7 linked regions of the Homo sapiens genome follow. The protein of the gene in region 2 interacts with the protein of the main gene of each other region in a biochemical or structural test. Each region holds a gene or a part of one and is shown on either strand. Other genes may lie near its edges.

Region 1 (4,237 bases), on a different chromosome or scaffold from region 2:
GAGACAGGGTTTCACCATGTTAGCCAGGATGGTCTCGATCTCCTGACCTGGTGATCCACCCGCCTTGGCCTCCCAAAGTGCTGGGATTACAGGCGTGAGCCACTCCACCTGGCCCAAGATGATATTTCAATACATATATACATTGTATAATGAATGATCAAATCAGGGTAATCAGCATATCCATCAGTTCACTTAAACACTTGTCATTTCTCTTTGTGATGAGAACATTCAAAATACTCGCTTCTGGCTATTTTGAAGTATACATTACATTAGTGTTTACTGTAGTCACCCTACTGTGAAATAGAACCCTAGAACTTATTCCTCCTATCTAACTGAAACTTTGTGCCTGTTGACCAACCTCTCTCCTTCCTGCCGCCCCCTGCAACAGCTGCATTCTCCTCAGTCTCTGGTTACCACTGTTCTATTTGTTCCTTGTATGAGATGAACTTTTTTTTTTTTGTTTTTTTTTTTGAGACACAGTCTCACTCTGTCATGAGGCTGGAGTACAGTGGCACGATCTCGGCTCACTGCGATCTCTGTCTTCCGGGTTGAAGCCATTTACCTGCCTCAGCCTCCCGAGTAGCTGGGACTACAGGCGTGTGCCACCACACCCTGCTAATATTTGTATTTTTAGTAGGGACGGGGTTTCGCATGTTGGCCGGGATGGTCTTGATCTCCTGACCTGGTGATCTGCCCGCCTCGGCCTCCCAAAGTGCTGGGATCACAGGCATGAGCCACCGCGCCCCGCCAAGATCAACTTTTTTAGATTCTACATATGAGTGAGATCATGCAGTATTTGTCTGCAAACACATTTATAATGTATAATGGGGTATATAAAAATAAGTAAAACTTGGCCCCTACACTGAAGGAATATAAAGCAGGAGAACAGAGAGGCACAATAAGAGAATGGCCTTGGCTTTTCCTAAAGTCTTTTTGATACGACTAGCTAGATAGAAGATGGGGAGAGAGATGCACCTTATTTCTCTAGTGTTTATACTGATAAGCATTTGTATTTTTCAGTAATGGCAATGCAGATGCAGCTTGAAGCAAATGCAGATACTTCAGTGGAAGAAGAAAGCTTTGGCCCACAACCCATTTCACGGTTAGAGGTATGTGGTTAGTTGCTAATTTTGGAATTATATACTAGATTCTTCTACCTAGTGGAAGGTATTACAACCTTTACATAAAATATAGGTTTACTACCAAGGTCAAGACCCAAATTAGACTTTTCAGAAGTGTTGTCAATAATCCTGTGGAAAGGCTGCAGATCATTGCTAAATATGTCTGGCAGGGCCTCTTCCTTTGTCAACAATTCTCTTCCTACTTTATCATTTTTATTTCTGAGAGTTGGACTGTCAGAAACTAAGGCCTAGGATCCCATGGTGGAATCTCTGTGCTGTTTTTGTTTGTTTGTTTGTTTGTTTTTGATGGAGTTTCGCTCTTGTTGCCCAGGCTGGAGTGCAATGGCGTGATCTCGGCTCACCGCAACCTCTGCGTCCCAGGTTCAAGCGATTCTCCTGCCTCAGCCTCCCAAGTAGCTGGAATTACAGGCATGAGCCACCACACCCAGCTAATTTTATATTTTTAGTAGAGACAGGGTTTCTCCATGTTGGTCAGGCTAGTCTCGAACTCCTGACCTCAGGTGATCCACCCTCTTTGGCCTCCCAAAGTGCTGGGATTACAGGCATGGGCCACTGCGCCCAGCCTGTGCTGTTTTTTTGTTTGTTTTTTAAGAAATGGGTCTTAACTGTGTTGACCATGTTGATCTTGAACTCCTGGCCTCAAGCAGTCCACCTGCCTTGGCGTCCCAAACTGCTAGGATTACAGGCATGAGCCACCATGCCTGGCCAAAGCATCCTGTGCTATTTGCACTAAGTATGAAAGTGCTGTTCTGGGAATTATAGCGGCCTGGACCAGTTATGCAAGGAAGACAGGGAAGCACCTTCTCTCCATTAACCTAGATTTGTGCTGTCAGCTGTCATTGGCAGAGAGAAGGGTGTGGTGGTGTTATGGTATAAGAGACAAGCTCCAATTCAGGATTCTGCACAAGAACATTAAGCACCAGAGCTGAGGCCTTACACTATTTCTGCCCATTGTATAGAGACTGCCCTGTGAGTGCAGCTGATTTGGGCTAAGTAGGAGGAAAGCAGAGAAAGACTTGATTCTTCTGTCTCTTTTTTTCATATTTCCCATCTCTGACTAATCTTCAAGACTCTAGAAGTTAGGAGTGCAAAAGGCTAATAAAAAAAAAAGACTCTAGAAGTTACTTAAATGGATTTGTGATAAACATTTGAAAGTTCAGAGTCATAACTTCTGGTGCCATGAGCATCCTTATACTCAAACATGCATATTGCTTAAATATTAATAGCAGACATGGCTTATGTTGGCAAACTAATCTCTCCCCTCTTCTAAATTCTCCCAACCCCTGAATGCACCCACATTCACCTACTAACTCATGTTTTCCCAGAAGTCATGGTTTTGGTGGCTAATGAAACCAAAGCTGACTTGAATATAGGAAGAAAGAGGTGTCTTTGGGTGGTTTGTTTTGAGAAGAGGTATAAAAGTCCCTGACAAAAAGTAGTTTTCCTCACTGTTAATGTCAGTTGTTAGAGCAGAGCTTTCTGGTCATTGTTCAACAAAAAGTATTGACAGGCCAAGATAGTGCTCTTTATATTCTGAGCAGCCTTATCTATTTACCCTACCATAGTGTAAAAATACAGTTTTTTATGTGTGCTTGATGTGGAAAGTGTTGAGCAACACTGTCTTAAAGTGGTCTTGTAGGGCCCAAGGTCTCAGAGATCATTTAGGGTCACAAAAAAAGGTTGGGAGTTACTTTTTAATTCCAATTGCTAATAGGAGTTCTTTTTAATGTACATGGCTTAGTGCTAGTTTAAAATTATTGATTTTGATAATGAAAAGGTTGTTAATTTGTTATTAAGTACCTCATATATAGGGCTCATTTTTCAGCTTTTGCATATAATAACAGTAGGCTCTCTGTATCTCCGGATTCTGTATCAGCAAATTCAACAAACTACGTATCAAAAATTCAATCAACTACATATCAAAAAAAAGTATACAGGAGGATGTACATAGGTTATATGCAGGTAATACGCCATTTTATATAAGGGACTTGAGCATTGTTGGATTTTGTTATCTGCTGGGGGTCCTGGAACCAACTTCCCATCTCCCCCCGCCCCCCCAAGGATTTCAAGGGACAGTTGTATTACAAGTCTTCAAGCACCTCTGTGAAGTATGTAGGACACATAACATCTGTGTTAGATTAGAGAACTAAAGCTTAAATTTATCCATGGTTTTCTTCATTTGCAGCAGTGTGGCATAAATGCCAACGATGTGAAGAAATTGGAAGAAGCTGGATTCCATACTGTGGAGGCTGTTGCCTATGCGCCAAAGAAGGAGCTAATAAATATTAAGGGAATTAGTGAAGCCAAAGCTGATAAAATTCTGGTAAGTACTGCTTACTTAACCTAGGGAGGCATTAGTGGGAATAGTACAAAAGGGAATGTAGTGAAAGACTTCTTCCTTCTATCTCTTATTCTTCGGTCATCTCATTATCCTTTCCAGGGGTGACTGTTACCTGTTTCTTTTCTTCTTTTCTTTTCTTTTCTTTTTTTTTTCTTTCTTTTTTTTTTTTTTTGGAGACGGGTTCTCGCTCTGTCACACAGGGTGGAGTGCAGTGGTGCCATCTCAGCTCACTGCAACCTTCACCTCCCAAGCTCAAGCGATCCTCTCACCTCAGCCTCCCAAGTAGCTGGGACTACACTACAGGCACATGCCACCATGCCGGGGTAGTCTCGAACTCCTGAGCTCAGGCGATTCACCTACCTCAGCCTCCCAAAGTGCTGGATTATAGGTGTGAGCTACTGTGCCTGGCCTATTTATTTTTCTAGCTTCATATAGTTCTTTAACATACATACTTCCCCATGGTTACATTTTGTTTTATGAACCTATTTCTTCAGTGTTTATATAGTTACACAGTTTTATTGCCTTTACCCTTGAAGTTTTATGTAGTATAAAGCAGATTTTTTTTTTTTTTTTTTTTTTTTTTGAGACGGAGTCTCGCTCTGTTGCCAGGCTGGAGTGCAATAGCGTGATCTTGGTCTACTGCACCCTCCGCCTCTCAGGTTCAAGTGATTCTCCTGCCTCAGCCTCCCGAGTAGTTGGGACTACAGGTATGTGCCACCACACCCAGCTAATTTTTGTATTTTTATTAGAGACA
Region 2 (4,229 bases):
CACCTTTGTGTTTACTTTCTGTCTAGGCCTCCTGAATTGCAAGATGCCACCTGCTGAGAAGGCTTCCAGGATCAGAGCTGCTGAGAAGGTTTCCAGGGTGAGAGCTACTTTTTCTACCTCCTATTCCACAAGTCATCTCTATATCTTCTCCAATGCTCTTTCACCTAGCCTCACTTTAATCTATTCCTTTCTCATTATTCAGTTTTCTTCCATTTTTGTCACGCCTTGATTGGCTTCTATTCCTTTATCCTCGGCACCCGTTGTTTTCCATATCTGTTTCCTAAGTTGTATCTCCTACCTGACTCAAAAGAAAGACCCTTCGTGTTTCTTCTTTCTTTGCCCCAGCCATCCTTTTCCTTACCATCATCCACGTGTGGAGAACACTATAGTAGCATTATGGAGACAGGTCTGTGGGAAAAAGGTAGCTTCCCAGGTAGATCCCAGTCTAATGGAGGAGAGATCATAGACAGAAAGGAAAATCCAGTGAGCATATTTTTTGTTTTTGTTCTTTTTTGAGACAGAGTCTGTCTCTGTCACCCAGGCTGGAGTGTGCAGTGGCGTGATCTCAGCTTACTGTAACCTCCGTCTCTTGGGTTCAAACAATTTTCCTGCCGCAGCCTCCCAAGTAGCTGGGACTACAGGCGCATGTCACCCGGCTAATTTTTGTGTATTTTTTTGTTTTTTTTGAGACAGTCTCACTCTGTCACCCAGGCTGGAGTGCAGTGGCGCGATCTTGGCTCACTGCAACCTCTGCCTCCCGGGTTCAAGCGACTCTCCTCCCTCAGCCTCCCAGGTAGCTGGGACTACTAGGCGCCTGCCAACACACCTAGCTAATTTTTTTTTTTTTTTTTTTTTTTTTTAGACAGAGTCTTGCTCTGTCCCCCAGGCTGGAGTGCAGTGGCACCATCTCGGCTCACTGCAAGCTCCGCCTCCCGAGTTCACGCCATTCTCCTGCCTCAGCCTTCCAAGTAGCTGGGACTACAGGCGCCCGCCACCACGCCCGGCTAATTTTTTGTATTTTTTAGTAGAGACGGGGTTTCACCGTGTTAGCCAGGATGGTCTCGGTTTCCTGACCTTGTGATCCACCCGCCTCGGCCTCCCAAAGTGCTGGGATTACAGGCATCAGCCACCATGCCTGGCCTTTTTTTTTGTATTTTTAGTAGAGACGGGGTTTCACTATGTTGGCCAGGCTGGTCTTGAACTCCTGACCTCGTGATCCGCCCGCCTCGGCCTCCCAAAGTGCTGGGATTATAGCCGTGAGCCACCACGCCCGGTGGAAATCTGGTAAGCCTATCTAACCATAAACAAGTATCAAGAACAGTATCCAAGTTCTATCTCTTTTCTCCACCTCCTCCCCCTCACTTGCTTCTGTTTCTCCCTAGGGCGATCAGGAATCTCCAGATGCTTGTCTGCCTCCTACAGTACCTGAAGCCCCAGCCCCACCCCAAAAGCCCCTTAACTCTCAGAGCCAGAAACATCTTGCACCTCCGCCCCTTCTTTCTCCCCTTTTACCTTCTATCAAGCCAACCGTTCGTAAGACCAGGCAAGATGGGAGTCAGGAAGCTCCAGAGGCTCCCTTGTCCTCAGAGCTGGAGCCTTTCCACCCAAAGCCTAAAATTAGAACTCGGAAGTCCTCCAGAATGACACCCTTTCCAGCTACCTCTGCTGCCCCTGAGCCCCACCCTTCCACCTCCACAGCCCAGCCAGTCACTCCCAAGCCCACATCTCAGGCCACTAGGAGCAGGACAAATAGGTCCTCTGTCAAGACCCCTGAACCAGTTGTCCCCACAGCCCCTGAGCTCCAGCCTTCCACCTCCACAGACCAGCCTGTCACCTCTGAGCCCACATCTCAGGTTACTAGGGGAAGAAAAAGTAGATCCTCTGTCAAGACCCCTGAAACAGTTGTGCCCACAGCCCTTGAGCTCCAGCCTTCCACCTCCACCGACCGACCTGTCACCTCTGAACCCACCTCTCAGGCTACTAGGGGAAGAAAAAATAGATCCTCTGTCAAGACCCCTGAACCAGTTGTCCCCACAGCCCCTGAGCTCCAGCCTTCCACCTCCACAGACCAGCCTGTCACTTCTGAGCCCACATATCAGGCTACTAGGGGAAGAAAAAATAGATCCTCTGTCAAGACCCCTGAACCAGTTGTGCCCACAGCCCCTGAGCTCCGGCCTTCCACCTCCACAGACCGACCTGTCACCCCCAAGCCCACATCTCGGACCACTAGGAGCAGGACAAATATGTCCTCTGTCAAGACCCCTGAAACAGTTGTCCCCACAGCCCCTGAGCTCCAGATTTCCACCTCCACAGACCAACCTGTCACCCCTAAGCCCACATCTCGGACCACTAGGAGCAGGACAAATATGTCCTCTGTGAAGAACCCTGAATCAACTGTCCCTATAGCCCCTGAGCTCCCACCTTCCACCTCCACAGAGCAGCCTGTCACCCCTGAGCCCACATCTCGGGCTACTAGGGGAAGAAAAAATAGATCCTCTGGCAAGACCCCTGAAACACTTGTCCCCACAGCCCCTAAGCTCGAGCCTTCCACTTCCACAGACCAACCTGTCACTCCTGAGCCCACATCTCAGGCCACCAGGGGCAGGACAAATAGGTCCTCTGTGAAGACCCCTGAAACAGTTGTCCCCACAGCCCCTGAGCTCCAGCCTTCCACCTCCACAGACCAGCCTGTTACCCCTGAGCCTACGTCTCAGGCTACTAGGGGAAGAACAGATAGATCCTCTGTCAAGACTCCTGAAACAGTTGTCCCCACAGCCCCTGAGCTACAGGCTTCCGCCTCCACAGACCAGCCTGTCACCTCTGAGCCCACATCTCGGACCACTAGGGGAAGAAAAAATCGGTCCTCTGTCAAGACCCCTGAAACAGTTGTGCCCGCAGCCCCTGAGCTCCAGCCTTCCACCTCCACAGACCAACCTGTCACCCCTGAGCCCACATCTCGGGCCACTAGGGGCAGGACAAATAGGTCCTCTGTCAAGACCCCTGAATCAATTGTCCCTATAGCCCCTGAGCTTCAGCCTTCCACCTCCAGAAACCAGCTTGTCACCCCTGAGCCCACATCTCGGGCCACTAGGTGCAGGACAAATAGGTCCTCTGTCAAGACCCCTGAGCCAGTTGTCCCCACAGCCCCTGAGCCCCATCCTACCACCTCCACAGACCAGCCTGTCACCCCCAAGCTCACATCTAGGGCCACTAGGAGAAAGACAAATAGGTCCTCTGTCAAGACTCCCAAACCAGTTGAACCAGCAGCCTCTGATCTTGAGCCTTTTACCCCCACAGACCAGTCCGTCACCCCTGAGGCCATAGCTCAGGGTGGTCAGAGCAAAACACTGAGGTCTTCCACAGTAAGAGCTATGCCGGTTCCTACCACCCCTGAATTCCAATCTCCTGTCACCACAGACCAGCCTATTTCCCCTGAGCCTATTACTCAACCCAGTTGCATCAAGAGGCAGAGAGCCGCTGGGAACCCTGGCTCCCTCGCAGCTCCCATTGACCATAAGCCTTGCTCTGCACCCTTGGAACCTAAATCCCAGGCCTCAAGGAACCAAAGATGGGGAGCAGTGAGAGCAGCTGAATCCCTTACAGCCATTCCTGAGCCTGCCTCTCCCCAGCTTCTTGAGACACCAATTCATGCCTCCCAGATCCAAAAGGTGGAACCAGCAGGTAGATCTAGGTTCACCCCGGAGCTCCAGCCTAAGGCCTCTCAAAGCCGCAAGAGGTCTTTAGCTACCATGGATTCACCACCACATCAAAAACAGCCCCAAAGAGGGGAAGTCTCCCAGAAGACAGTGATTATCAAGGAAGAGGAAGAAGATACTGCAGAGAAGCCAGGGAAGGAAGAGGTGAGGAGAGGGTTGGGACCACAAAGCTGGGAAAAATGACTTCAGGGCTCTGAAACTCCCACCAAGATTTTTCTCAATCTCAGGATGTCGTGACTCCAAAACCAGGCAAGAGAAAGAGAGACCAGGCAGAGGAGGAGCCCAACAGAATACCAAGCCGCAGCCTCCGACGGACCAAACTTAACCAAGAATCAACAGCCCCCAAAGTAAGAGACAAAGGCATGGGACTTTGTGGGAGACAGAGATGAGGGGAGGATGCAAGGAGACCTAGAGGATTGTAGAGATGGGTGCTGATGGCATGGGTTGCCGTAACCACCTCAGGTCAACCCTTCCACAGGTGCTCTTCACAGGAGTGGTGGATGCTCGGGGAGA
Region 3 (3,997 bases), on a different chromosome or scaffold from region 2:
CCTTCATCCCTGTCTCTCCCGGTTTATTTTAATTCAGCCCCTTTCACATTCTACTCCCAGAGTCTGTCCTATTTCCTTACCAGTTCAGCTCTATCCACACTGCCCCGTCTCTCCAAGAACCTCAGTCTCAGGGGGAAAAACCATTTATTGGACCCTCTCCCTCCAATTCTCACTTTTCCCTCAGGCCTCGCCCACAATATTAAGCTTTTCATGCTTTACTCCCTAATCTCGGATCACACTTCTGCAGTCCTTTCTTAAATACATCAACCCAACTTTAAACCTTACTCACCCTATTCATTCAAGTCTTCCAGTCTCCCAGGCCCTGCCCCTCAAGTACCCTTTCCTCAAGTTCCGCCCCTCGACTTCTCCTTCCCTTTCCCGTAGGTACCGCCCCTCAAATCTCCCTCCCCTCTAGCCTCGGCCCCCCTATTTCCTCTAACTTCAGCGCCCGCCCCTCCAGTCCCGTTCGTCTCCCTTCTCCACACCTCAACGTTGCTTCCCTCAGTCCCCGCCTCTCAATTTCCTCCTGAGAAATCAAGACACTTCTCTCACGCCTGCTCTCTAGACCTCCGCCCCCCCATCAGTCCCGCCTTCTCTTCCGCCAGCCAGATCCGTCCTCCCCTCTCGCAGGCCAGACCTCGACGTGTCTCTCGCCCGGGCCCGTTTCCCGAAACCGTCGCTCGTACCAGTCCATAAGGCTGAAGTAGTCTCGAGTGGGGTCAGGTGCCTGCAGCGCTCGGCACTGTGGGCAGAAGAACCTGTCCTCCCGCCCGGGGCCCCATGGGCCGCCGCAGTTCCAACAGCGGGGATAATTGCTTCCCGCCTGCGACGCAGCATCGCAGCTTAGCGGTCTCCTTCTGGGAACCCCTGTCGGCCAAAACCCCCACACCCGGAGCAAAGCCCCGGCTCTCCCCCGCCACATCTGGCCGGCGGCCTATCTAGCCGTGGTCACTCGTGGGGAAAAGCAAAGAGAGCGTCTAACCAGACTAATGTTGCTGATTGGCTGGGGAGTCGAGGGGGCGGGATCACCCGAGGGGAACCCGGGTTCTAAGTTCCGCTCTCCCTTCTAAACTACAACTCCCAGGAGGCATTGAGGCGGCGCCTGACGGCCACATCTGCTGCTCCTCATTGGTCCGGCGGCAGGGGAGGGGGTTTTGATTGGCTGAGGGTGGAGTTTGTATCTGCAGGTTTAGCGCCACTCTGCTGGCTGAGGCTGCGGAGAGTGTGCGGCTCCAGGTGGGCTCACGCGGTGAGTCATATGGGGAACTTCTGTTGGGTGTTTGGTGGTTCGAATCCCATCTTAAGCGTTTTGTGCGAACGGAGTCTCCTGAGCTTCGCTTTGTCTGTAGTTTTGAGCTGAAGGGGGAGTGTGTGGGCGACTCTCTTCCTTTTCAGTAGATCATCCTCGAGGTGAAGTTCACTTCCCGTATTACTTGCAAGCTGAAACAGGCCTGAACATACAGGATAAGAAGAACAGCGTTGTATTCTTCAATATCAGAGCGAAGTGACTTCGTAAAAATTCTATAGATGTTAGAAATCGTTGCCATTCTTTAGGTTCAATCTATAAAATACTTATAGAGAAGCCAGTCTTAGCTACTGGGCGCTGCAGGGACTGGAAACGCACTGAGCTGTGTAGGAGGATGTTCTGCGTGTCCCTAAATAAGTCCCTAAGTAAATGTATGGGATAGGGTGGCCAGAAGTGGGTAGGAGGGCATCAGTCCTCCTTCGGACTTAGGTTTTCTGCTTGAAAAAAATATTGTGTTTCACTTGAAAGACCTCTGGAATTTTTAAAAAAAATTATTTATTTTTGATATAAAGTATACATATATGATTACCATCTGTACCTTTTTTTTTTTTTTTTTTTTTTTTGAGACGGAGTCTCTCTCTGTTGCCAGGCTGGAGTGCAGTGGCGCGATCTGGGCTCACTGCAACTTCTGCCTCCTGGGTTCAAGCGATTCTCCTGCCTCAGCCTCCTAAGTATCTGGGATTATAGGTACCCGCCACCATGCCCGGCTAGTATTTTTAGTAGAGACGAGGTTTCACCATGTTGGCCAGGCTGATCCCGAACTCCTGACCTCAGGTGATCCACCTGCCTTGGCCTCCCAAAGTGCTGGGATTACAGGTGTGAGCCACCGCGCCCGGCCTATTTTCAATTTTTTGAGGAATCACAATACTCTTCTCTATAGTGGCTATACTAATTTGCATTCCCACCAGTGGTGTATGTGAACAGTGCAAGGTCAGACATAACCAGGTCCATGCACATTTGTGTCTTTCCACAAGATCAGACTTATTGATGTTTTATTTTAATTGTAAAAGCCACGAGCTATATGGAGTTCCCAAGGAAGCAATTTTCCGTAGTACTCCCTGTTTACTTGGTGGTCAGAGCCATGGGCACACAGGCTCAAGCCATTCCACAAGTCAGTCAGTATTGTAAACCGTACACAATAGTATATTTATTTAATATGTAAATGTTATAGATTAAAAATCTTACATTAAAGTAACATTTAACATTCGGAGAAAAGGGGATAGGGAAAGTGGTTATCAAACCAGTCCAAGGAGAGCAATGTGGACAAAGAGAGTGTTTTGGCTTTATCTGGGGTGTCAGTGTCTTGTAAGGAAGAGTTTTTGATGCGGGCAGAGCCTTTGATGGCGGATACTGGGTGTTAATCATGAGTGACAGCAAGATGGTGTCTGTTAGGACAGCCATTTTGACCTAATAAAGTCCTGCTCTTATGACCAAAGAATTTTCTTGTGAGGACTAATAACAAAAGCGTGTACATATTTATATCCTTATCTGGTTTAGTACAGTGTTTTTTTTGAGACAGAGTCTCGCTTTGTCACCAGGCTGGAGTGCAGTGGTGCGATCTCGGCTCACTGCAACCTCCGACTCCCTGGTTCAAGCGATTCGCCTGCCTCAGCCTCCCGAGTAGCTGGGACTACAGGCACGCGCCACCATGCCCAGCTAAGTTTCGTATTTTTAGTAGAGTTGGGGTTTCACCATGTCGACCAGGATGGTCTCCATCTCCTGACCTTGTGATCCGCCCGCCTTGGCCTCCCAAAGTGCTGAGATTACAGGCGTGAGCCACTGTACATGGCCAGTACAGTCTTTATTAATTAGACAAACATCTGGTCCCTGTTGGCATAATGCCTTTTAAAATATAAGATAGAGCCTTTTTCTAAGATAAAATTACTTATGTCAAGAGCACTCTATACAGTTCCCCTTTCTGCACATTCTTTCCAGCATCTGTTTTGCCTATCTTTTATACAAACCATTTTAACTTGGGTGAGATGGTATCTCATTGTGGGTTTTTTTGTTTGTTTGTTTGTTTGAGACAGAGTCTTACTCTGTCGCCCAGGCTGGAATGCAGTGGCGCGATTTTGGCTCACTGCCTCCTCTGCCTCCCGGGTTCAAGAGATTCTCCTGCCTCAGCCTCCCAAGTAGCTGGGATTATAGACGCCTGCCACCATGCCCAGCTAATTTTCATATTTTTAGTGGAGACAGGTTTCACCATGTTGGCCAGGCTGGTCTCAAACTCCTGACCCCAAGTGATCTGCCCGCCTCCGCCTCCCAAAGTGCTGGGATTACAGGCATGAGCCACTGCACCCGGGCCTCACTGTAGTTTTGATTTATATTTCTCCAGTGATCAGTGATGTTGAGCATTTTTTTAATATACCTGTTGGCCATTTGTATGTCTTCTTTCGAGAAATGTCTTTTCGGATCTTTTGCCCATTTCTTTTTTTTGAGACAGAATCTCACTCTGTCACCTAGCCTCGAGTGCAGTGGTGCGATCTCGGCTCACTGCAACCTCCGTCTCCGTCTCCTGAGTTCAAGTGATTCTCGTGTCTCAGCCTACCAAGTAGCTGGGATTACAGGCACGGGCCACCATGCCCAGCTAATTTTTTGTATTTTTAGTAGAGATGTGGTTTTGCCATGTTGACCAGGCTGGTCTTGAACTCCTGACCTCAGATGATTCACCCACCTTGGCCTCCCAAAGTG
Region 4 (4,237 bases), on a different chromosome or scaffold from region 2:
TGCAACCTCAGCAAAGAAGGTGGTCGTTTCCCCAACAAAAAAGGTTGCAGTTGCCACACCAGCCAAGAAAGCAGCTGTCACTCCAGGCAAAAAGGCAGCAGCAACACCTGCCAAGAAGACAGTTACACCAGCCAAAGCAGTTACCACACCTGGCAAGAAGGGAGCCACACCAGGCAAAGCATTGGTAGCAACTCCTGGTAAGAAGGGTGCTGCCATCCCAGCCAAGGGGGCAAAGAATGGCAAGAATGCCAAGAAGGAAGACAGTGATGAAGAGGAGGATGATGACAGTGAGGAGGATGAGGAGGATGACGAGGACGAGGATGAGGATGAAGATGAAATTGAACCAGCAGCGATGAAAGCAGCAGCTGCTGCCCCTGCCTCAGAGGATGAGGACGATGAGGATGACGAAGATGATGAGGATGACGATGACGATGAGGAAGATGGTAAGGAGTTGTCTTGGTAGTTACTGGGCTTCTGATTACAAGGTATCTTGAGATTCTGGGATCAACATATTCCTTCCACGACAACCTGGAGATGAGATTAGAATCCTTGTGGGAATTCTCTGGGTTGTTGTGGTGTGCTAGACTTAATTACCCATGAATGATTTTTGTGCCTCTTGAGAAAATTTCAATAGCACATTCTATTAGTGTTTTTTATAATGTAGGATTTTGTTTCTAAGTGATTTTTTTTTTTTTTAAATTTTTTTGAGATGGAGCTTTTGCTGTTTCCCAGGCTGGAGTGCAATGGCGCGCTATCTCGGCTCACTGCAGCCTCCATCTCCTGGGTTCAAGCAGTTCTGCCTCAGCCTCCCGAGTAGCTGGGATTACAGGTGCCCACCACCACACCCTACTAATTTTTGTATTTTTAGTAGAGACGACATTTCACCATGTTGGCCAGGCTGGTCTCGAACTTTTGACCTCAGGTGATCCACCCACCTTGGTCTCCCAAAGTGCTAGGATTACAGGCGTGAGCCACTGCGCCCGGCCCCAAGTGATCTATTCTTGCCATGACTGTTAACTAAACATGGTGACAGGATTGCATTTTCTTTACATTAGATTTGAAAACCGATGTTGGTTTTGGGAGATTGCTGCAATTTTTAGGTGACTTCTCTTTCAGACTCTGAAGAAGAAGCTATGGAGACTACACCAGCCAAAGGAAAGAAAGCTGCAAAAGTTGTTCCTGTGAAAGCCAAGAACGTGGCTGAGGATGAAGATGAAGAAGAGGATGATGAGGACGAGGATGACGACGACGACGAAGATGATGAAGATGATGATGATGAAGATGATGAGGAGGAGGAAGAAGAGGAGGAGGAAGGTACTTAAATTAGATTCTGACATACGACATGAGTTATGTTTAAAGGAGGCACTTAAGTGTTTGTGGCTACTGATGTGTGATACATTGTTTGACATCTTGTCCAGAGCCTGTCAAAGAAGCACCTGGAAAACGAAAGAAGGAAATGGCCAAACAGAAAGCAGCTCCTGAAGCCAAGAAACAGAAAGTGGAAGGTAACTTGCAGAATTAGGGGATATGGGGGAGATAAACAGCACAAATGATGAATAACAAAGGGACTTAATACTGAAACCTGATGTTACATTGTAGTGTGCTGATGTGCTGTGTATAGAAATTTTGCTTTGGAAACTAACTTTTTACCACACTACAAGTAGACTGAGTTGAGCTTTTTTTGTGCAGGCACAGAACCGACTACGGCTTTCAATCTCTTTGTTGGAAACCTAAACTTTAACAAATCTGCTCCTGAATTAAAAACTGGTATCAGCGATGTTTTTGCTAAAAATGATCTTGCTGTTGTGGATGTCAGAATTGGTATGACTAGGTAAGTGCTTCACTGCACGTTACATACACGTGGGTCTGTTAATGCTTTTCCTTCCCCTGTTAGCACAGTTACTTTAGCCTGCTACTGTTAAACATGAATACTGTAAACATCTTCAAGGATTAGCATTAGTGAACTAAGTTAGAATTAAACTGTAGATCCCCTAAGTTGCAATTTCCATAATCAGTCGTAACTTGGTATAGCACAGAATAATTTTTAGTAAGTTTTTTTGTTGTTTTTGTTATGTATTGAGACGGACGCTGGCTTTTGCTCAGGCTGGAGTACAGTGGCGCAATCTTGGCTCACTGCAACCTCTGCCTCCCGGGTTCAAGCGATTCTCCTGCCTAAGCCTCCCAAGTAGCTGGGATTACGGGTGCACTTCACCATGCCTGGCTAATTTTTGTATTTTTAGTTGAGATGGCATTTCACCATGTTGGTCAGGCTGGTTTTGAACTCCTGACCTCAAGTGATCCACCCACCTCGGCCTCTCGAAGTGCTGGGATTACAGGCGTGAGCCACCCTGCCAGTAAGTTTTAATAATTTGGTGTTAGGTGGGAGAATCGCTTGAACCTGGGAGGCAGAGGTTGCAGTGAGCCAAGTTCGCGCCACTGTACTCCAGCCTGGGCAACAGATTGAGACACCGTCTCAATTTAAAATAATGTTTATTTTCTTGGAAGTACCTGAAACTATTAGACCTGTCTAGTCATCATAGTGAATACTTTTATCCAGACAGGATTCTCCTGTATTAGTGCTTATAGGTGTTCTTTTGTCAGCTGCTACTGTGAATTCTTATAAGCAATTTAGCTCCATGATGAAGACCTCAAACGTGAATGTGCATGTCATATCTTCATGCTGAGACCTTGTTCTGTAGCTGCAGTTTGCAGAGCCTTGACTTTGTTTTGCTAATACTAGGGGTGCTTTTTAAAATGTGATCTTTGTTTGCACCATCACATTTGTCTAGAATACATATTGTGGATTTTGATTTGTGTTTTCACCTGTTGTAATTTTGCCCTCCTCTCCACCTTGAAGGAAATTTGGTTATGTGGATTTTGAATCTGCTGAAGACCTGGAGAAAGCGTTGGAACTCACTGGTTTGAAAGTCTTTGGCAATGAAATTAAACTAGAGAAACCAAAAGGAAAAGACAGTAAGAAAGGTATGTAAGGCTTTATGAGATTATGCAATGAACTCAGGAGCTAGACTGCTAGGGAAAATGCTTTGTAACCCATTTCCCTTGGTTTCCTCTTATTTTTTTAAATCATTTTTTTCCTTTGGTTTCCTCTTAATGTGGGAATTAAATGAGCTACAGTGTTTACAAGAGTACTTGGCACTGCTTGTCAGTGTTATAGTGTAAATTCCTGAGTTAGGCAAGCAAGAGCACTTTTATACAGAACAAGAATTATTAGATGCACCTAAATTAACGTAAAGGGATCTTTCTTCACTGAAACTAGATTAGGTCCCTAATTACTCCCTATATACAGTTGTAATGTTTTGAATTGGTACATTCACTTTTTTTGTTATGCGCGTCTACTCTAGGTTGAACTCCAGTGTACCTAACAGAGAGTTTGACATCAGCTGTGACAACATGGAGGGACCACTTGTGTGTTGACACTGCTATATCTCCATATTTAGCACCGAGCCTTGTACATTATAGGATCTCAAATTATTTGTTGAATAGAGCTATGTGTGTTTTTCCCCTCTTTTTGTTGTTGCCCCCCACCTTTGGTTTTTCAGGCCACAGAGCTCATTTTTGTTTTTTTAATCTAGAGCGAGATGCGAGAACACTTTTGGCTAAAAATCTCCCTTACAAAGTCACTCAGGATGAATTGAAAGAAGTGTTTGAAGATGCTGCGGAGATCAGATTAGTCAGCAAGGATGGGAAAAGTAAAGGGTATGTTCTGTCTATTGAAATGTAAGGGTTTTATTAACATTAATGCACTTTCCTGCTTTATAAAAGAAATATTGGTTTGATTTCCTTAGGCGTGTAATCTTGGACAGTTTAACCTGTAAGTTTGTGCCTCAGTAACCCATCTGTACCATGGGGATAATGTACTCATAGGGTGATTTTAAAAGACAAGCTAATACTTACAAAGAAGCAAGAAATGTGCCTATCTTACAATAAATACTTTGTAAGTAGTAGCAGTTCTTTCAGTGAGGTGAGGTTACTATGAAAAAATTCCAAGTATTTGTAAAACTAGTGGGAAGTAAGAGGGAAGCTCGAGTTTTGATTGAAAAGTGGCATAAAACTAAGGGCATTTATTGTACTCAGATCTGAAGCAAGTTCTGTGTTGCTGAGGTAAAAGCATTTGTGTTAATATGGTTTTAAAAACCATGAGTTCTTCTCCCTCCATTGCAGGATTGCTTATATTGAATTTAAGACAGAAGCTGATGCAGAGAAAACCTTTGAAGAA
Region 5 (3,363 bases), on a different chromosome or scaffold from region 2:
TAACCTAGAAAAAAAAGTATGATAAATATACTATTTTCCCTTTTTGGACCAATACTTGGTAGTGTGTTTATTATACTTTATTCAGATGCTCTGTAGACAAGTAGGACACTCAAAGCAATTTGTTTCTTGGCTAAGTCAGTATTAAAATAAGGTGAAATCTGATTGGAACACTGTGCTACTTACAATGATCCTTTTTATACATCTTTACTTTTGCATCTTACCTTCTGCGTGTTTGCTCTTCTTGCCTATTGAAAGGGGAGTCCAGAAAGTAAAACTTTCAATAATTCAGTGTTCGTGAAGCTGGTCCCCGGCCAGCTTTGCTGAAAGCAGGGGGTGTACGCATAGCACACATTCGTCCTTCAGCATCATTTCTTCTGAAACCAAAGGTGTCTTTTTTTTTTTATTTGTATGACTAATAAGACTTATGTAAGTTTATGCTTATTTTTGCCTTTATGACTACATAATAATTTATAGAATCAACTAAAATCAGCTATCCATGGTATTTTGCTTGTATTTTGCCTTTTAGGTTATTATTCTTGGCGAAATTCAAAGGATGGCTCCTGGTTCATCCAGTCGCTTTGTGCCATGCTGAAACAGTATGCCGACAAGCTTGAATTTATGCACATTCTTACCCGGGTTAACCGAAAGGTGGCAACAGAATTTGAGTCCTTTTCCTTTGACGCTACTTTTCATGCAAAGAAACAGATTCCATGTATTGTTTCCATGCTCACAAAAGAACTCTATTTTTATCACTAAAGAAATGGTTGGTTGGTGGTTTTTTTTAGTTTGTATGCCAAGTGAGAAGATGGTATATTTGGTACTGTATTTCCCTCTCATTTTGACCTACTCTCATGCTGCAGAGGGTACTTTAAGACATACTCCTTCCATCAAATAGAACCACTATGAAGCTACCTCAAACTTCCAGTCAGGTAGTTGCAATTGAATTAAATTAGGAATAAATAAAAATGGATACTGGTGCAGTCATTATGAGAGGCAATGATTGTTAATTTACAGCTTTCATGATTAGCAAGTTACAGTGATGCTGTGCTATGAATTTTCAAGTAATTGTGAAAAAGTTAAACATTGAAGTAATGAATTTTTATGATATTCCCCCCACTTAAGACTGTGTATTCTAGTTTTGTCAAACTGTAGAAATGATGATGTGGAAGAACTTAGGCATCTGTGGGCATGGTCAAAGGCTCAAACCTTTATTTTAGAATTGATATACACGGATGACTTAACTGCATTTTTAGACCATTTATCTGGGATTATGGTTTTGTGATGTTTGTCCTGAACACTTTTGTTGTAAAAAAATAATAATAATGTTTAATATTGAGAAAGAAACTAATATTTTATGTGAGAGAAAGTGTGAGCAAACTAACTTGACTTTTAAGGCTAAAACTTAACATTCATAGAGGGGTGGAGTTTTAACTGTAAGGTGCTACAATGCCCCTGGATCTACCAGCATAAATATCTTCTGATTTGTCCCTATGCATATCAGTTGAGCTTCATATACCAGCAATATATCTGAAGAGCTATTATATAAAAACCCCAAACTGTTGATTATTAGCCAGGTAATGTGAATAAATTCTATAGGAACATATGAAAATACAACTTAAATAATAAACAGTGGAATATAAGGAAAGCAATAAATGAATGGGCTGAGCTGCCTGTAACTTGAGAGTAGATGGTTTGAGCCTGAGCAGAGACATGACTCAGCCTGTTCCATGAAGGCAGAGCCATGGACCACGCAGGAAGGGCCTACAGCCCATTTCTCCATACGCACTGGTATGTGTGGATGATGCTGCCAGGGCGCCATCGCCAAGTAAGAAAGTGAAGCAAATCAGAAACTTGTGAAGTGGAAATGTTCTAAAGGTGGTGAGGCAATAAAAATCATAGTACTCTTTGTAGCAAAATTCTTAAGTATGTTATTTTCTGTTGAAGTTTACAATCAAAGGAAAATAGTAATGTTTTATACTGTTTACTGAAAGAAAAAGACCTATGAGCACATAGGACTCTAGACGGCATCCAGCCGGAGGCCAGAGCTGAGCCCTCAGCCCGGGAGGCAGGCTCCAGGCCTCAGCAGGTGCGGAGCCGTCACTGCACCAAGTCTCACTGGCTGTCAGTATGACATTTCACGGGAGATTTCTTGTTGCTCAAAAAATGAGCTCGCATTTGTCAATGACAGTTTCTTTTTTCTTACTAGACCTGTAACTTTTGTAAATACACATAGCATGTAATGGTATCTTAAAGTGTGTTTCTATGTGACAATTTTGTACAAATTTGTTATTTTCCATTTTTATTTCAAAATATACATTCAAACTTAAAATTACCAATGTCTTTGAGTTTTTTGTTGCTGTTGTTTTTGATGTTGTGCCACTAATTGGAAGTTAAAATGTTTTTAATCAGAAGCTTGATTTGGAAGAGTCAAAGAGGAAGCACCAGAACCCTAGCCTAGTTTTTTGAGGTGGTGGCAGTTAGATCAGGGCAGACAGATCGCTTATGCTTCCCAAGTCCTCGCAGAAGTTCCTGACCCTGAAATGACCACAATGCCAGGAAGATACTTTGTTTGCATAGATCTCAGGCCTTAAATATGACCATATGTGTGAATTTGAAACTTTTTCCACAAGATAAGTGTCTAATGGGAAGAACAACCTAAGAGGATATACAACAAGCCGTTGATGTTTACTGATGGCCTCCTCTGGGCGCTGGGATTTTGACAGAGGAATTTGCTGTCTTTTTACTTCATATGCTTAGAAAAGGAATATAGGAAAGTGGGGTTGTGGGTGGTTTTAAATTTCTTCCAATATTTCTGTAATGAAAATATATTACTTTTAAATCAGAAACAAAATAAATTGTCCTAACTAGGAAAAGGAGACTTCTGTTTCTGAGGAGTAGAGAGTAGCATAAATGAGTTCTTTAAGGCCATATGAAAGCGGTGGTTCTATAGTGTTGAGGAAAATCTGGCTTATTCTAGTCTCCCTGTTAAGTAAAGAGGTTTCAGATACAAAGGAAAAGACCAGCAACCCAATAGGAAAATGAGCCAAGGACATGAACAAACAGTTCACAGAAAAAAGAAAACCCAAATGTCCCTTAAATTCAATAAACAGCTTGATCTGCATCATAATAAGAGAAATGCACATTAAAGTATCTGTCGTCTATCAGACCGGCAAAAACCCCAGTTTGGTGACATATTCTGTTGGCAAGATGTGGGAAATGTATACTCTCCCGTTGGTGGGAGTATGATACGGTAAAATACTCTGTGGAGGGGAATCTGACAATACCTATCAAATTATTCTTTGAAGTAGCAGTCCCATTTCTTGGAATCCAGCCTACCCATACACCTGTGTGTGTACAAAATTA
Region 6 (4,237 bases), on a different chromosome or scaffold from region 2:
GACCAAAGTGGTTAGAATTTGCAGGATAAAGTACTGGACAGGAGACGGTTACATAGAGAAAACTGCAGAATGTGCAGATCTCTCTCAAGCATTCAATCAAATATTGATCAGAGAATGCGTTGTAAGAAAACCAGAGAAAGAACCACCCGAAGCCTTGAGGGGGAATATCCTCCCAGTTACAAAGGACCTAGAATAATCTACCAGCCAGAGTGGAAAACCTCCATAAGTAACGGGACACAGTAGAGAAGAATTTTGCCTCAGAAGGGAAGAAAATTAGCCACAGACTATATTTTGCTAGTCTTTATTGTTTCCACAGCTTCTCATATATCTAAAATTTGTTTCCATTTTTTAAAATAGCTGCTTTAGCAGGAGTGTTAGCCTTCTGTGACTTACTGCATTCTACCTAGAAGAGGAACCTCTAGCATAACCTTGATACCAAAGCCCTGTAAGAACATTTTTCAAAAAAAGACAATATTATTCATAAACATAGATGCAAACATCTTCAATATTAGGCAAACCTAATCAAAAAAAGTTAATACTTTATGACCAAGTCAAGTTTATCCCAGAAAACCTAAAGTTGCTTTAACTTTCAAAAACCATTGTAATTTATCAAGTTTCAGAAGGCCTCTCAATTCTGAAAGAAATGGTTTTGTCTGCATTGCTTGGAACCAAAAGGCTACATATGTTTAATATGTTGATTGCCTTTTACAGTTTTCTAGTAAGTGTTACTTCTAGCACTATATGATTTTTCTAATTAGTATTGTGCTTTTGAATAATTTGCCTTAGATTAGCTTCAAATACTTTATTTGAAAGTCTGCTACTTAGTATAGTTAAGTCAACCAATACTTTATTTCTGATCAAACTAACAGCAATTAAAATATATAATCAACAGAAGATTGATTTCCCCGTATAACAATGAAGTGCCTTCATTTATTAGAATATAACCAACCCTGCCAACCTGATTAGCAACTTTGATCACTGCCCATTTTCCTAAAAACCTAATTTGAGTATTATTTTAGGAGAAGTGAAAAATGTTTATTATAATTTGATAATTCTAATTCCCATAATCCCAATTCCAACAGAAAATATCAAATAAAACTTTTCACAAAATACCTCCAAATTTTATAGAAAGTCAATGGGAATATAGAATTCCCTTTCAAGAATAAGACTTACAAACAACTAAAATATACATGAGTATATTGTGTATACCTTCATTCATTAAAATATTAAACCTATACCAGCTCTTCTTTATCACTTACCTCTTTGCTTGGTGACTGAATACAAGTGTCTTTTATTTTGCGTGTTGAATTAGGCACTGATTTTGTAGAATTTGTACTAAAATCATTGGCAAGACCTAAAACAAAAGTATGAAATTTTCAAAAACAAGATATAGTGTAATATCTATTAGTCACAATTAAAAGTAGCTGTATATGACATGTGAAGAACCATCTGTTGACTCACTGACCACAATTAGCTTAAATCAAGTAGAGACCTCAATTTAATATTCAAATGTTCCTGAGAAGCATCAGGAAATGAGAAAAGCAAACAAAACACCTGAAGTATCAATATATGCCAGCTCTTCTTTCAGAGCTTGTATAGAAAACATTCTTTTCTATCATCTGCCCCTATTTCTTTGGCTGGCTTATTCTCTTATTCCAATACCTGCTGATGCTAATCAGCACTTGGAAAAGTTTTTGCTGTAATTTATGACTTCCTTAAACAGATATGTAAATCACCAAAGATTATCTCAAATTCTCCAGCGATTCCAAGAATTCTACACATCTATTTTCATTATATATTTTTTCTGGCTAGATGCAGTGGCTTATGCCTGTAATCCCAACACTTTGGGAGGCTGAAGAGGGCAGATCACTGGAGGGCAGGAGTTCGAGACCAGACTAGCCAACATGGTGAAACCTGGTCTCTACTAAAAAATACAAAAATTAGCCAGGCGTGGTGGCACACACCTGTAATCCCAGCTACTTGGAAGGCTGAGGCACAAGAATCACTTGAACCTGGGAGGCAAAGGTTGCAGTGAGTTGAGATAGCACCACTGTACTACAGCTTGGGTGACACCGCAGGACTATGTCTCAATAAATAAATAAATAATAAAATACTTTTTCTTGTGTATGATAATTATGTATGGACTTCCAGATTACAGTAATTTAATGTGAACTAAACGGGATGACAAATTATTGTCAAATTATTATTTTTTGTCAGTATTATCCTAAGTATACCAGAAGGTACACAAAGGATTGCATATGAACTCAAAATACCAGGGAAAATATTTTCCATATATTTAAACCCTAGAACATATTTGCTGCATTTGATATTAATTACCATGACAAATTCATATTTTCATCCATCTAACCCTTAAATTCCATCTTGAAATGAAGCCTTACTTTTTTCTTCAAAACAGTCTTGTAAGATTTCCAGAACATTCTGGCCTTGCTCTGTGTTAATGTCACGTGCCCTAATAAAGGAAAAATACAGCCTGTCATTTTCAGAAGATATTTCTTTATATTACCATCTCTTTGAAAATTCCACATCTCATTATAAAATATAAATTTACTTAATATGTAAAATATCTTTACTATTTGAAGACAAAACAAGTACTTGAGGGTCTATACATTCCCTCAAGTGAACTCTTTCCTTCCTAATAAGAATTAGTATATCATAATCTACCTTAACAATTAATATTTCTTAGTTGAACAGCCATGTCTAAAGCTGTTTTAGATTACTGCTGTATCTCAAAAACACAAATTTTTTTGAATGAATCCAATCAGTCCTGAAATGCTTCTTTAACAGACTTTACAGTCACATCTCCAAGTAACATATTCCTCCCTATAAATTCTCAAATGCATTTCTAATTCAGTATCATTGATTAATCTTAACAGTTTATGAATCAGTATAAATTTTAATTAAAAATTATATTGAGCTTGTAGATTCACAGCCAGCTATACAACATAATACAGACCCCTTGTTCACTTTACCTAGTTCTCCTCAGTGCTAATATTTTGCAAAACTATAGCATATTATCACAATCAGGATACTGATATTGATACAATCTACCAATGCTATTGTGATTTCTCCAGTTCTACATGTACTCATTTCTGAACATACTCATGTTTGTGTGTATATATACAAAATGTATCACATCTGTAGGTGCAGATAAAACAACCAGAGTCAAGATACTGAATAGTTCCATCATCACAAAGATCCTCTATTGTCCTTTTGTAATCATAACCACCTTTCTCTCATCTCCTTCCTGCCTCCTCTCATTCCTAACCTCTGGCAACCACTAATCTGTCCTCCATTTCTAAAACTCTGTCATGTGGAAACAATTATATGTAAATAGAATCATACAACATGTATCCTCTTGCCTTGGCTTTTTTCACTCAACACAATTCTATGGAAATAAATCCAAGTTGAATGTACCAATATTTCATTGCTTTTTAGAGTCAAGTAATGTTCCATGCTATGTGTGTACCACAGTGTTTAACCATTTACCTGTTGAAGAACATCTGGATTTCAATCAGTATAAAATTGACATGCATCTCTAACAGAGTGGACAAACTTTTGCTTAAAGGGCCAGATGGTAAATATTTTAGGCTTGTAAACCATAGTCTCTGTCACAACCAGTCGACTCTCCCATTCTAGCCCAAAAGCAACCACAGACAGTATGTAAACAAAGAGGCATGGCTGTGTTCCAATAAAATTGAAATAAAACCTGTGACAAAACATTTGGCTGGCCTATCAGCCAGAGTTTACTGATCCCTGATCTACAACATTCCTATTATTGAGAGCTGGAAAAGTACTATATATGCAGTAATTAAAAACTGTGAGCCACAGTGCATTATCAGGTCATCCATCATAAAGTTTTATAACTGAAAGATCTCAGAAATCATCCAGTCCAATAATCATCATCCAAATAGATGTGTAAAGTTACTTTTGGAGCTTTGCAGAAATACACTTAATTGGTCACTTCCCACAAACCAATTTAATTAGATTTCCTAGGGTGATGGAGGTAATTCTGATGTGCAAATCTAGTTAAAAACCCCTAGCTGAATCCTATGCCCTCATTTTGCAGATAGGCAAACTGAAACCCAAAATGGTCAAATGGCCTACCTCAGTTTGTAAACCTAAGTAGTATTAGTGGCCGGTTTTCTACCAGAATATATATAGGTGACTATTATAAATTCTGGCCTTGACATCACCCCAAAATACCACCTACAGGTGC
Region 7 (4,237 bases), on a different chromosome or scaffold from region 2:
TCATTTAAGTTTTATACAACCCTGCGAAGTGGGTGGATTTTTTTTTTTAATCCCCACAAAGAAACAGGCTCAGAAAGAGGAAACAACTTGTCCACCCTCGTGCTATTTGGAAGTGATAGAGCCAGGACTACCCTTTTAGATCCATAAGCTTGCCACCAGACCGGGCTGTGGGATTTTTTAAATCCCTTTCCACATTTGAATTTAACATCAGCTGTGCTTTGATAATTTATGTCCTATTTTTTGATCACAAATTTGCAGGTTGAGTTTAGTGTCCCTCTGAGTATGTGTGTGTTGTCAACATAGCAAGGTAAATAGACCTTGTCTTTCAAATCTAAACAGTTGCTGGATTATACTATGGTTGGTTTTAAATTCTAACCAGAAGTGCTCTTCATTCTGGAAATGCTGCCTTGTAACTGAGTTGTTTCCTCTTTCACAGCATATGAGCTATTTGCATTCATCAGTCACATGGGAACATCCACAATGAGTGGTCATTACATTTGCCATATCAAAAAGGAAGGAAGGTGAGTCATTTTTAGAAGGTAAATGTTAGCTGTGATTTATTGAGTACCTACTATATGCCAGGCACTCTCCTAGGTACATTGTATGTTATCTTATTTGGTTCTCACATTGGTCTTGTAAAGGGTATACTGTTAACGCCCTTTTGCACATCAAGACACCGAGACTCAGGGAGGCTGAATAGCTTGACCTTAGCTAGTAAGTAGCTGTGTGAGAGCTGATATTCAAAGCCACTTTCAACTATCATACCAAGGTGACCTCCCAAAATAAAGATGCATCCTGCAGCAGAATGTATGCTGTAATTGGAACCTCCCTAGGATTGCCATATTTAGCCAACAAAAGGAAACAAGACAGGAAAAACCAGGATGCCCTATTAAATTTGAATTTCAGATAAATAATGAATAATTTTTTAGTATAAATAAATTTCAAATATTCTATGTCCCAAATATTATATGGGGCATGCTTCTACTGAAATTTCTTATTGCTTACCTGATACTCAGATGTAACTGGGTAACCTGTGTTTTATCTGGCAGCTCTAAACCTTCAGTGCTTTGCCTTACTACAGCCTTGCAGTTGGCTTCTCAGCCTTCTTAAGTAGAATTGTTAAGTGTGTAGTGAACCGGAAATGAGACAGTTGTGGAATGAAAGGCTGCTGCTTTCTTCAGAACCTTCTCCCTGGGCTGGATCCCTACAGGACCTACTGGTGCCCTTCCTGCAACTCCAAACTGAGTAGCCTGTGGGTTGGCACTTCTGCTTGAGGGCAGTGCTCAGGCCATGTGGATGCTGGAGAAATGCCTGAGGGTGGCCTCTTGCTCCATGGCTCCCACTGCAGGAGTGGCCATTTCCCACCTGGACTCCATTGTGTTCTTCTGTGGTGTGTCTTTTTAGTTTTGTCTTCTTAACTTGGTAAAATAGTTGAGCACAGGAATTTATCTCTTTTTTTTGAGATGGAGTTTCACTCTTATTGCCCAGGCTGGAGTGCAATGGCACAATCTCAGCTCATTACAACCTCCGCCTCCCAAATTCAAGCAATTCTCCTGCCTCAGTCTCCCAAGTAGCTGGGATTACAGGCATGTGCTATCATGACTGGCTAGTTTTGTATTTTTAGTAGAGATGGGGTTTCACTATGTTGGTCAGGCTGGTCCCAAACTCCTGACCTCAAGTGATCCACCCGCCTTGGCCTCCCAAAGTGCTGAGATTACAGGTGTGAGTCACCGCACCCGGCTGGGACTTAATCTTTGTGGTGAATTGTTTTTATTACAAACACGATAGCGCTTTAAAAAACACTTTATGGAATGAAGTCAAAGAAAATAAAATAAAAATGCTTTTTAAAAGAAAAATAGCTTAATTATAATTTTAAAAGCAATAAAATTCATAGTAAATAATTTATAAATATAAAAATATACAAAGAATATGTACCCTGGAAGCCTAACAATAACCATTGTCTACATTTTGATATACTTTTCTTTGTTTTATTGTCTCACTGGAAGAAAGTATATATATGTCTATATGCACACATACTACATATAAATAAACACACGTATTTACAACTTAACTAAAAGCTTAAAGTATGTGCAGAGTGCATACAATTTTTTAACCAGTAATTTCCCATTTCATATTATATCATGGTTATTTTCTCACTTTGCCAAATATTCTTTGAAGAAATTTTAATAGTTCTATAATAGTTCACTGCATGGATTTTTTTAAAATTCTGGTTTTAAGCTAGTTTTATACTAAGACTGAAATAAGCATTGTTGTACATAATTCTTTGACTCAATTTCTCAGGCTATCTATGGATTTCTATAAAGGGAGTTATGGGATCAAAGGTTAAAATGTTTGGAGGTTCCTGATACATTTTAGTAACTACTTTTTGATGGAGCTTAAGAATCAAAAAGCAGTTGTAGCTGGGTATGATGGCATGTGCCTGTGTTCCCAGCTACTCCAGAGGCTGAAGCGAGAGGATCCCTTGAGCCCAGGAGTTCGAAGCTTCAGATTGTGCTACCTTACTCCAGCCTGGGGAATAGAATGAGGCCTTGTCTCTTAAAAAAAAAAAAAAAAAGCAGTTGTGATTCCCTACCAGCATTCTGTCCCTTTTTATACAACGAACTTGAGTATAGTACCTTAAAACATCATGGTTAAGTGTTGTGCGCCATATGATTTAGTGACTTCTTTGTGTAAAGTTTCCTGGAACTGACTTAAATCCATCAAATGCTTCTGTCTTATTTTCAGATGGGTGATTTACAATGACCACAAAGTTTGTGCCTCAGAAAGGCCCCCTAAAGACCTGGGCTACATGTACTTTTACCGCAGGATACCAAGCTAAACCTCAAATATAAAAATTGGCGAAAAGAAGCCATACGCCTTTTTAATTTGCCAAAAAAAAAAAGAAGAAGAAGAAGTTGAAACAACTAGACATGAAGGAATATATGGGGTATTTATCGTTTATTTAAAGAGCACGATCAGTTGACACCTTCTGAAATAGAACTGAGAAGAAATTTCTATTAGTGATGATACACTATTATATTGTAGATAGTTTTTATAAATGTTCAAAAAGATGATGATATTTAAAAACAAAAAAAGTATTCATATTGCTGGTGGAGGATCTGCCATCAGCACATCAAAAATGGGGATGTGCCCCCAGCCCTCTATTTTGCTTTGGGGGTCAGTGATAGTGGCCTCTGGAGAAACCAAATAATGTGGCCAGTGGTGTGGCCTTACCCACAACAAATGAAAAGCCCACTTGTGTTTCATATAGAAAATCAGCAGTTGGGTGGGGCTTTATTTGTGACATAATTTTTTTCATGACATACAATAATTTCTGATGTATCCATGTAGATATTATGCTCTGTCCATAATAGAGCCTCTGCAATGAAAGATATTTTTAATTTGTCACATTAAAATTCATAATACGATTGTGTGAATGTGTGTGAGACTGACTGAGAGTGTGAGACTTTTACTAGAAAAGTGAGTCCACTAGAAAATCTGTGACAAGTTGGTTTTTAAAGTCTGAACAGTTGATATTAAGCATATCTGAAAAAAGCAAGTAAATATTTTAACAAAACTATGACTCAGGAACCTTCGAGAAGATTAGTTCCCCACTTAGATTTTTAAGGAGTAAAAAGGGCTGAGTTATGCCTTTAAGTGCTGTCAAGAATTCACTTGGGTTTGGGACATTTGCTGGTGTAATGCTAGATGCCCACAGCAGCATAATATTGTACTTTGTCAAAGGTAGGTAAATTCTCTGTTTCTCAGCAGCCCTTTCCCCAAAAGGTATGGTGTTTATTTTTAGTAAAAATAGCTAATCTCTTTTTACCATCTCACATGATAACTCTTTGGAGTCATGTCAAGTGCCCCAAATTTGTCTGTGATTTTCCCATCTCTGAGCTCTTTATCTGCCTCCGTTTCCTTGTTTTTCTGGGGCCAGAGTCTCATCTCTGCCTTTTTTTGGTGTATCACCTTCTGACTTGCCTTCATTGCTTGTCTGATGTGACCAACAGTGTGATCTTGGACACACTAAGGATTTTAGATGCAAAGAAACTTTATACAACATTATGAAAGACTATCCTTTCCATTTTGGTTATTTCAGCATTTTAGTTGCAACCTGGGATTAGATTAGAGTTTCCAACGTGATGAAAAGTGGAATGATAGCATTCTATAATTTCCATAATTTTCCTACTGGTCCGTACCAAATTCTAGAGTCTCTGGAGTTGCTATTTCAGAG

Evidence for each region.
Region 1: the proteins of MDC1 (region 2) and RAD51 form a complex in vitro, tested with the Homo sapiens proteins (one study listed by BioGRID and IntAct).
Region 3: the proteins of MDC1 (region 2) and CHEK2 form a complex in vitro, tested with the Homo sapiens proteins (one study listed by BioGRID).
Region 4: the proteins of MDC1 (region 2) and NCL form a complex in vitro, tested with the Homo sapiens proteins (one study listed by BioGRID).
Region 5: of the proteins of MDC1 (region 2) and CASP3, one has a biochemical effect on the other in vitro, tested with the Homo sapiens proteins (one study listed by BioGRID).
Region 6: the proteins of MDC1 (region 2) and CENPC interact in a test that uses a peptide from one of them, tested with the Homo sapiens proteins (one study listed by BioGRID).
Region 7: the proteins of MDC1 (region 2) and USP13 form a complex in vitro, tested with the Homo sapiens proteins (one study listed by BioGRID).

The regions. Positions count from the first base shown.
Region 1 is NC_000015.10:40,697,737-40,701,973, forward strand, and holds part of RAD51 (DNA repair protein RAD51 homolog 1), read left to right. Parts: intron 1-1,020; coding exon of another isoform or gene 1,021-1,022; coding exon 1,023-1,109; intron 1,110-3,327; coding exon 3,328-3,465; intron 3,466-4,069; coding exon of another isoform or gene 4,070-4,190; intron 4,191-4,237.
Region 2 is NC_000006.12:30,703,252-30,707,480, reverse strand, and holds part of MDC1 (mediator of DNA damage checkpoint protein 1), read left to right. Parts: intron 1-26; coding exon 27-97; intron 98-1,382; coding exon 1,383-3,860; intron 3,861-3,943; coding exon 3,944-4,063; intron 4,064-4,194; coding exon 4,195-4,229. UniProt on the Homo sapiens protein: Histone reader protein required for checkpoint-mediated cell cycle arrest in response to DNA damage within both the S phase and G2/M phases of the cell cycle.
Region 3 is NC_000022.11:28,739,021-28,743,017, reverse strand, and holds the start of CHEK2 (serine/threonine-protein kinase Chk2), read left to right. Parts: upstream 1-1,197; 5' UTR 1,198-1,249; intron 1,250-3,997. Other genes in the region: iron-sulfur cluster co-chaperone protein HscB isoform 1 precursor, read right to left, coding at 687-922. UniProt on the Homo sapiens protein: Serine/threonine-protein kinase which is required for checkpoint-mediated cell cycle arrest, activation of DNA repair and apoptosis in response to the presence of DNA double-strand breaks.
Region 4 is NC_000002.12:231,457,746-231,461,982, reverse strand, and holds part of NCL (nucleolin), read left to right. Parts: coding exon 1-443; intron 444-1,116; coding exon 1,117-1,314; intron 1,315-1,418; coding exon 1,419-1,505; intron 1,506-1,540; exon of another isoform or gene 1,541-1,615; intron 1,616-1,689; coding exon 1,690-1,831; intron 1,832-2,857; coding exon 2,858-2,982; intron 2,983-3,593; coding exon 3,594-3,717; intron 3,718-4,182; coding exon 4,183-4,237. UniProt on the Homo sapiens protein: Nucleolin is the major nucleolar protein of growing eukaryotic cells. It is found associated with intranucleolar chromatin and pre-ribosomal particles. It induces chromatin decondensation by binding to histone H1.
Region 5 is NC_000004.12:184,626,665-184,630,027, reverse strand, and holds the end of CASP3 (caspase-3 isoform a preproprotein), read left to right. Parts: intron 1-526; coding exon 527-756; 3' UTR 757-2,332; downstream 2,333-3,363. UniProt on the Homo sapiens protein: Thiol protease that acts as a major effector caspase involved in the execution phase of apoptosis. Following cleavage and activation by initiator caspases (CASP8, CASP9 and/or CASP10), mediates execution of apoptosis by catalyzing cleavage of many proteins.
Region 6 is NC_000004.12:67,538,581-67,542,817, forward strand, and holds part of CENPC (centromere protein C), read right to left. Parts: intron 2,471-4,237; coding exon 2,400-2,470; intron 1,355-2,399; coding exon 1,260-1,354; intron 1-1,259. UniProt on the Homo sapiens protein: Component of the CENPA-NAC (nucleosome-associated) complex, a complex that plays a central role in assembly of kinetochore proteins, mitotic progression and chromosome segregation.
Region 7 is NC_000003.12:179,781,303-179,785,539, forward strand, and holds part of USP13 (ubiquitin carboxyl-terminal hydrolase 13), read left to right. Parts: intron 1-436; coding exon 437-521; intron 522-2,745; coding exon 2,746-2,839; 3' UTR 2,840-4,237. UniProt on the Homo sapiens protein: Deubiquitinase that mediates deubiquitination of target proteins such as BECN1, MITF, SKP2 and USP10 and is involved in various processes such as autophagy, endoplasmic reticulum-associated degradation (ERAD), cell cycle progression or DNA damage response.